2 linked regions of the Homo sapiens genome follow. The protein of the gene in region 1 interacts with the protein of each later gene in a biochemical or structural test. Each region holds a gene or a part of one and is shown on either strand. Other genes may lie near its edges.

What was found. The genes of interacting proteins can lie anywhere in the genome.
Region 2: the proteins of SYF2 (region 1) and MCM3 form a complex in vitro, tested with the Homo sapiens proteins (one study listed by BioGRID).

What each region holds. Positions count from the first base shown.
Region 1 is NC_000001.11:25,225,830-25,229,594, reverse strand, and holds part of SYF2 (pre-mRNA-splicing factor SYF2), read left to right. Parts: intron 1-471; coding exon 472-597; intron 598-1,359; coding exon 1,360-1,477; intron 1,478-2,062; coding exon 2,063-2,153; intron 2,154-3,765. UniProt on the Homo sapiens protein: Involved in pre-mRNA splicing as component of the spliceosome.
Region 2 is NC_000006.12:52,264,143-52,267,882, reverse strand, and holds part of MCM3 (DNA replication licensing factor MCM3), read left to right. Parts: coding exon 1-18; intron 19-1,186; coding exon 1,187-1,272; intron 1,273-1,738; coding exon 1,739-1,808; intron 1,809-2,474; exon of another isoform or gene 2,475-2,497; coding exon of another isoform or gene 2,498-2,648; intron 2,649-3,096; coding exon 3,097-3,295; 3' UTR 3,296-3,740. UniProt on the Homo sapiens protein: Acts as a component of the MCM2-7 complex (MCM complex) which is the replicative helicase essential for 'once per cell cycle' DNA replication initiation and elongation in eukaryotic cells.

The DNA.
Region 1 (3,765 bases):
CCATGTTGGCCAGCCTGGTCTTGAACTTCTGACCTCAGGTGATCCACCTGCCTCAGCCTCCCAAAGTGCTAGGATTACAAGCGTGATCCACTGCACCTGGCCAATTTAATAGTAATGCCAAATAAAGTCTACTTAAGTGCCACTATAGTATGGTCTCCAATACTGCAAAACCTTGTTCTGATCCAATAAAAAGGGACCACACAACTCAATAGAGGCAAAGCTGATTTTAACCTCCAGGGCTCTGGAACAGCAAACCAGTGCAACTCAACACATTTTTCTTGACTGCATAAAAACGTAGACCCTATTAGGCTATTCCCTGGCTTAAAATCCTGTGATGGCTCTCTATTGCTTTTAGGATAAAATGGGGTCAGCTTATTAATATGTCCTGCCTGACCCTCCTCAAAGAAGGCAAGGTGTATCTGGATTTATTTTCATGTTTTAGCTGACAGACTTCTTGTGTTACGGTTTTAGAATGAAGCTCGTAAATTAAATCACCAGGAAGTTGTGGAAGAAGATAAAAGACTAAAATTACCTGCAAATTGGGAAGCCAAAAAAGCTCGTTTGGAGTGGGAACTAAAGGAAGAGGAAAAGAAAAAGGTTAGGAACTATTCTATCTTCATAAGTGATTTAGTCAATCATTCTGTTGTATCAAGACACTACAACATGGTGGTTGTATACACTGGCTCTTAGGCCAAGCTGCCAGAATTGAAATTCTGGCTCTGCTCAGTACCAACTGCAACACGTTGGGTGAGTTTATTTAACTTCTCTGTACCTCTGTTTTCTCATCAATAAAACAGGGACTGTAACAATAATTATTTGAGTTCATTATGAATTAAGTGAGTTAATGCATGTAAAACATTTAAAACAAGGTCTGACACCTGATAAACACTCAATAAGTATCATGTGCTCACTTATATACCATAGTATATTCCCAAATTTCCTTTAAATGCTATTAAAGTGGCCGGGTGCAGTGGCTCATGCCTGTAATCCCAGCACTTTTGGGAGGCCGAGGCTGGCAGATCATTTGAGGTCAGGAATTTGAGACCAGCATGGCCAACATGGTGAAACCCCATCTCTACTAAAAATACAAAAATTAGCCGGGCATGGTGGCATGTGCCTGTAGTCCCAGCTACTTGGGAGGCTAAGAGATGAGAATCCCTTGAACCTGGGAGGTGGAGGTTGCAGTGAGCTGAGATCGCGCCACTGCACTCCAGCCTGCGTGACAGAGTGAGTGAAACTCCAACTAAAAAAATACTATTAAAGTATTGGTTGATATTTATTGGATCTTTCTTGATGTAAAGTAGATCAAATTATTGCATGTATCATAATTGTAGGTGTCAGCTTTTTTCTTCTTTTTAGGAATGTGCGGCAAGAGGAGAAGACTATGAGAAAGTGAAGTTGCTGGAGATCAGTGCAGAAGATGCAGAAAGATGGGAGAGGAAAAAGAAGAGGAAAAACCCTGATCTGGGATTTTCAGGTCAGATTGACCTTTATTGAACCTTATTGACTGGGCTGTTAGTCATTTCCTTCATTGTTTCTGGTTTCAAGAAAGGATGTGCCTCTTGTGCTTCGTGGGATATTCTTGATGAGGCTTAAGACCAAGAAAAGTACAAATATGTCTCTTAGGAGAGAAGTTAAAAAAAAAGGCTGTACTTCAGTTAGCCAGGTTTTTAAATACTTGATGATAAAATTTATCAAAGTCTGTTTGTCAGCATCTTCAGGATAGAAGCTATGCTTAGAATAGTGTTATGGGCATATATTACTTCACACAGATTGAGTATCCCTAGTATGAAAATCTGAAATCCCAAATGTTGCAAAATCCAAAACTGTTTGAATGCCAACATGGTGCTATGATGCTCAAAGGAAATGCTGATTGGAGCATTTCAGATTTTGAATTTAAGTATAATAAAGATATTCCAAAATCTGAAAAAAATCAGAAACACTTCCGATTCCAAGCGTTTTGGATAAAAGATACTCACCTGTGATAATTTAGATTTTTCTCTCAATAGGAAGGTCCAAACAAGGAAATATATTATCGCTGATTCTCATTTTATATTTTTAGATTATGCTGCTGCCCAGTTACGCCAGTATCATCGGTTGACCAAGCAGATCAAACCTGACATGGAAACATATGAGAGACTGAGAGAAAAACAGTAAGTCCTTTTTCAACCTGAGGTGATGTGGATGTATTTGTGTGTGTGTGTGTGTATACATGTACATAAATAGAAACATGCTTTAATGCTAAGGTATGGGTTATTAATAGTTGTCTAAGGATGGTCTCTGTTTTTTCTGGATATTTTTTTCCTTTGAGATGGAGTCTTGCTTTCTCACCCAGGCTGGAGTGCAGTGAATGGTGCGGTCTCAGCTCACTGCAACCTCCGCCACCTGGGTTCAAGCAATTCTTCTGCCTCAGCCTCCTGAGTAGCTGGGATTACAGGCGCCCGCCACCACGCCCAACTAATTTTTGTAGTTTTAGCTGAGATGGGGTTTCACCACGTTGGCCAGGCTGGTCTTGAACTCCTGACCTCAAGTGATCCGTCCACCTCAGCCTCCCAAAGTGCTGGGATTACAGGCGTGAGCTACTGCGCCCGGCCCTTCCTTTTTTTTTTTTTAAGAGACGGTGTCTCGCTCTGTTGCTTAAGCTGGAGTGCATTGACACTGTCATAACTCACTGTAACCTCAAACTTGTGGCCTCAAGGGATCCTCCCACATCAGCCTCCCCAGTAGCTAGGATTACAGACATGTGCCACGATTCCTGGCTAATTAATTTTTTTGTGGAGACGGGGTCTCACTGTGTTGCTCAGGCTGTCTCAAACTCCTGGCCTCAAGTGATCCTCCATCCTTGGCCTCCCACATGGTTGAGATTACAGGTGTGAGCCACTGTGCCAGGCCTAGTCTCTGTTTTGACAGCACTGTTTATTGCTTACTTCACAGCTATTAAATTAATCACATGTTTTTTGTTTTGTTCTTAACTGGGCATTCTAAGACTGGTTGTTGATTGGTTAACACCCTGATTGTCGTAGTTACTTAGATATTATTTTAGGAGGCAGAATGCTTTAGTGCTGGGGTTGGTGAACTTTTTCTGTGAAGGACCAGATAGTAAATATTTTAGCTTTGTGGGCCATATAGTCTCTGTCACAGCTATTCAGCTGTGCTGCTGCAGTGCAAAAGCAGCTGCAGAGAATTCATAAATGAAGCCTCTTTTCATAAACAGGTGGTGGGCTGCTGTAGTTTGGCAGCTTGTTTTAGTGGAAAAGGAAATAACCTCAGGATGGAGCTCTAATCCCAGCTCTGTTCCTAGCACTTTGTGACCTCTGATAAGTCCTGGAGCCTCTCTGCCTGTTGGCTCTTTGATCTGTACAGTGAAGGTGTTGGCGTAGATGATGTCTTAGGTTCCTTTCAATTCTGTAATTTTTTATTTTTTATTTTTATTTTTATTTTTTTTTTGAGATAGAATCTCGCTCTGTCGCCCAGGCTGGAGTGCAGTGGTGCAATCTTGACTCACTGCAGCCTCCGCCTCCTGGGTTCAAGTGATTCTTCTGCCAAGTAGCTGGGACTACAGGTGCCCGCCACCACGCCTGGCTAATTTTTTTGTATTTTTAGTAGAGATGGGGTTTCACCATGTTGGCCAGGCTGGTCTTGAACTCCTGACCTCAGGTGATGTGCCCACCTTGGCCTCCCAAAGTGCTGGGATTATTGGTGTGAGCCACTGCACATGGCCCTATTTTTTTTTTTTTGAGACAGAGTCTTGCACTGTCGCCTGGG
Region 2 (3,740 bases), on another chromosome or scaffold:
GGAGCAGAAGAGGAAGAGGTAAGGTGGGGCAAGCAAATGAGATTAAAAAGTTAGTGGCCAAGAAGTTGGGGGTGCACGCCTGTAATCTTAGCAATTTGGGAGGCCGAGGCGGGTGGGTCACTTGAGTCCAGGAGTTTGAGACCAGCCTGGGAAATATGGCAAAACTGTCTCTACAAAAAATAGAAAAATTAGCTGGGCGTGGTGGCGGACACTTGTGGTCCCAGCTGCTCGGTAGGCTGGGGTCGGAGGATTGCTTGAGCCTGGGAGGCAGAGGTTGCAGTGAACCAGGATCGTGCCACTGCACTCCAGCCTGGGCGACAGAGAGAGATCCCATCTCAAAAAAAAAAAAAAAAAGTAGTAAGTTCCAGTGGGACTGGGGAGAGAAGTAGAGGGTAGAAGGTGGAACCAGCGCTGCTTATTGATGTCAGGTTGTTCATGGAGAGTGTTCCTAGACCTGCGGGGTTTGAGGATGAAGATAACCTGGGTAGGCTGGGCGCGGTGGCTCACGCCTGTAATCCCAGCACTTTGGGAGGCCGAGGCAGGCGGATCACGAGGTCAGGAGATCAAGACCATCCTGGCTAACAGTGAAACCCTGTCTCTACTAAAAATACAAAAAATTAGGCTGGCGTGGTGGCAGGCACCTGTAGTCCCAGCTACTTGGGAGGCTGAGGCAGGAGAATGGCGTGAACCCAGGAGGCAGAGCTTGCAGTGAGTGGAGATCACACCACTGCACTCCAGCCTGGGTGACAGAGTGAGACTCCGTCCGTCTCAAAAAAAAAAAAAAAAGAAGATACCCTGGGTAAAAGAGAAGGAGAGCGAGTCCTTCTTGTGTGCTTTTGACCCCTCTACTGAAGAAATGCTAAATAGTAGGAACAGCAACCCAACCACTGAGGGTTTTGAATATATACTTCAAAATTCTAAGGGAAAAACCTTCATGCTTATAGTTGAATTTATAAGGGTGAGTGATGTGGAAAAGAGCGTTGGGAAGCAGCGCCTGTTTGTGTTCTAGTCTGGGGACTTGGTCTCGTTTGGAACAAGCAGCAGTTTGCAAAGGCCTAAGCCTAGTGCTTCACTTTGACTTAGTGGTTCTGTTTCCTTTTCTCCGTAGTTAGAGGCACGTGATGGGGCTTCCTTGCCTTTCTGTCTCCAAACTCTTTCTCTCTCTTAACTGCTGTGGGTATTTTAGAAGGAAGACTCGCCAGCCAGATGCCAAAGATGGGGATTCATACGACCCCTATGACTTCAGTGACACAGAGGAGGAAATGCCTCAAGGTGAGTGAGCCCACTTACTGATGAAAGAGGTTGTTCCTGTGACTCTTGGACTTTTCCAGTTGCTCTGTGCACTTTATTTTCTTGTGGACTCCTGTTTGTTTGGCTCCCTGCTTGGGGCCTATGTCCAAGAGGTTTGTCCCAAGAGAGCTTCAGGGGAAACTTTGGAAAAAGCTTTGCTATATTATATACACCTCCTTGATGAACTGTGCTGTGCTGTTTCACCTGGTATAAGCATTTCAGATAATATATACATTGAGGGTCTCCTGCCTGACTAAATTCCTTCATCATCCAATGAAGATTTCCCTATATCCTAATTGTTCTGCCTGGCCCCATAAGAACCCTAGGAAATAGGAGTGTTCAGCAGGCTGAGTGAGAGATTGGGAGTGGAGATGATTTCTCTAGTGTTTGTGGAAATGGCTTCACCTTGCTTATCTTCCCCATCTCTACAACCATCAACCCTCTGAAGTACACACTCCAAAGACGGCAGACTCACAGGAGACCAAGGAATCCCAGAAAGTGGAGTTGAGTGAATCCAGGTGAGTACGGATGTTGCTCCTGCCCCTTCAAGAATTCTGTGTATCGCTGAGGAAGGGACTTTGTTCCCTTGGAGAGGGTGGGAAACAAACTGCTGGTCATCAATAGAACTCAAAACTAGAGGCCTGCAGCTTTTAACATTTTATATTCTCATTTAATTTCAAACTTACTGAAAAGTTATGAGAAAAGCATGAAGAACTTCTGGATGTCCTTTACCCAGAATCTTCAGTTGTTTAAATTAATAATTCTCTCTTTCTGAGAGAGAAGAGTTTTACAATAAGGATAAAACTTAATGTCTTACTGTAACCTCAGATTCTTCTTGGTGGGATAGATACATTTTGGCCATTTGTTTTTGAAATGAAGAATTTTTACCACCAGGGTTTTAGGAAACATTTTTATCTATGAATTTTGTTTACTGGACACCAAGAAACTCCATAGCCAAGTTTTACGTTTTTTCTTTTTATACTTTAAACACATAATACAGTGTATTTACTGAAAAAAATTTGAAACACATTGAAAAGTATTTAGAAAAAAAATTAAAATCAATTGTAACTCTATCCCTCAAGGACAACCATCAACTGTATCTTAAAATGCTTGAATCAGCTCGTATAGATCTCACTTTTTTTTTTGAGACCGGAGTGCAGTGTTTATTTTTTACTTTTTTACAGTGTTTATTTTTTACTTTTTGTAGAGACGGGATCTCACCATGTTGCCCAGGCTGGTCTTGGACTCCTGGCCTCAAGCAGTCCTTCTACCTGAGCCTCCCAAAAGGCTGGGATTACAGGCATAAGCCACTGTGCTTGTTTGATCTCATTCTTTTTAATGACTGCAGGGTTTCCATGGTATGGATGGGTAAAAATTTAATGAAATTCTCTGATGATAGACATTTGGGTTGTTCCCTGTTTACAGTAAAACAGTATTAAATTTATCAGTGTGCACTCATGCAAGTATAGCTATAAGGTGAGTTCCTAGAAATGGGCTCCCTGGGCCAAAGGATATACGCTTTTAAGGGTTTAGTAAGTGCTGTTAAATTGTCCCGCATTGACGCTGACCGGGTTACTATTTTACAGTGAATGGGAATGCCAATTTCCCACACGCTAGTACAATAGTTTAGCTTTAAAGGGGGCTCCTCAAGGGTAGCACTGCCATCAGAGGCAGATGTGTGTGTGAGAAAGAATATTGAGGGGACGCCTCTACTGTATTAATACTATGGATTTTCCTAGTATAGCTGTTTCCTGAGAGCATTTGGGTTTGTTTACTCCTCTTCCCCCTTTCTTCTGTCTGGGGCAGGTTGAAGGCATTCAAGGTGGCCCTCTTGGATGTGTTCCGGGAAGCTCATGCGCAGTCAATCGGCATGAATCGCCTCACAGAATCCATCAACCGGGACAGCGAAGAGCCCTTCTCTTCAGTTGAGATCCAGGCTGCTCTGAGCAAGATGCAGGATGACAATCAGGTCATGGTGTCTGAGGGCATCATCTTCCTCATCTGAGGAGGCCTCGTCTCTGAACTTGGGTTGTGCCGAGAGAGTTTGTTCTGTGTTTCCCACCCTCTCCCTGACCCAAGTCTTTGCCTCTACTCCCTTAACAGTGTTGAATTCAACTGAAGGCGAGGAATGTTGGTGATGAAGCTGAGTTCAGGACTCGGTGGACCCTTTGGGAATGGGTCATGAAAGCTGCCATGGGGTGAGGAAAGAGGAGACAGTGGGAGAGGACAATGACTATTGCATCTTCATTGCAAAAGCACTGGCTCATCCGCCCTACTTCCCATCCCACACAAACCCAATTGTAAATAACATATGACTTCTGAGTACTTTTGGGGGCACAACTGTTTTCTGTTTGCTGTTTTTTTGTTTTGTTTTTTTTCTCCAGAGCACTTTGGTCTAGACTAGGCTTTGGGTGGTTCCAATTGGTGGAGAGAAGCTCTGAGGCACGTCA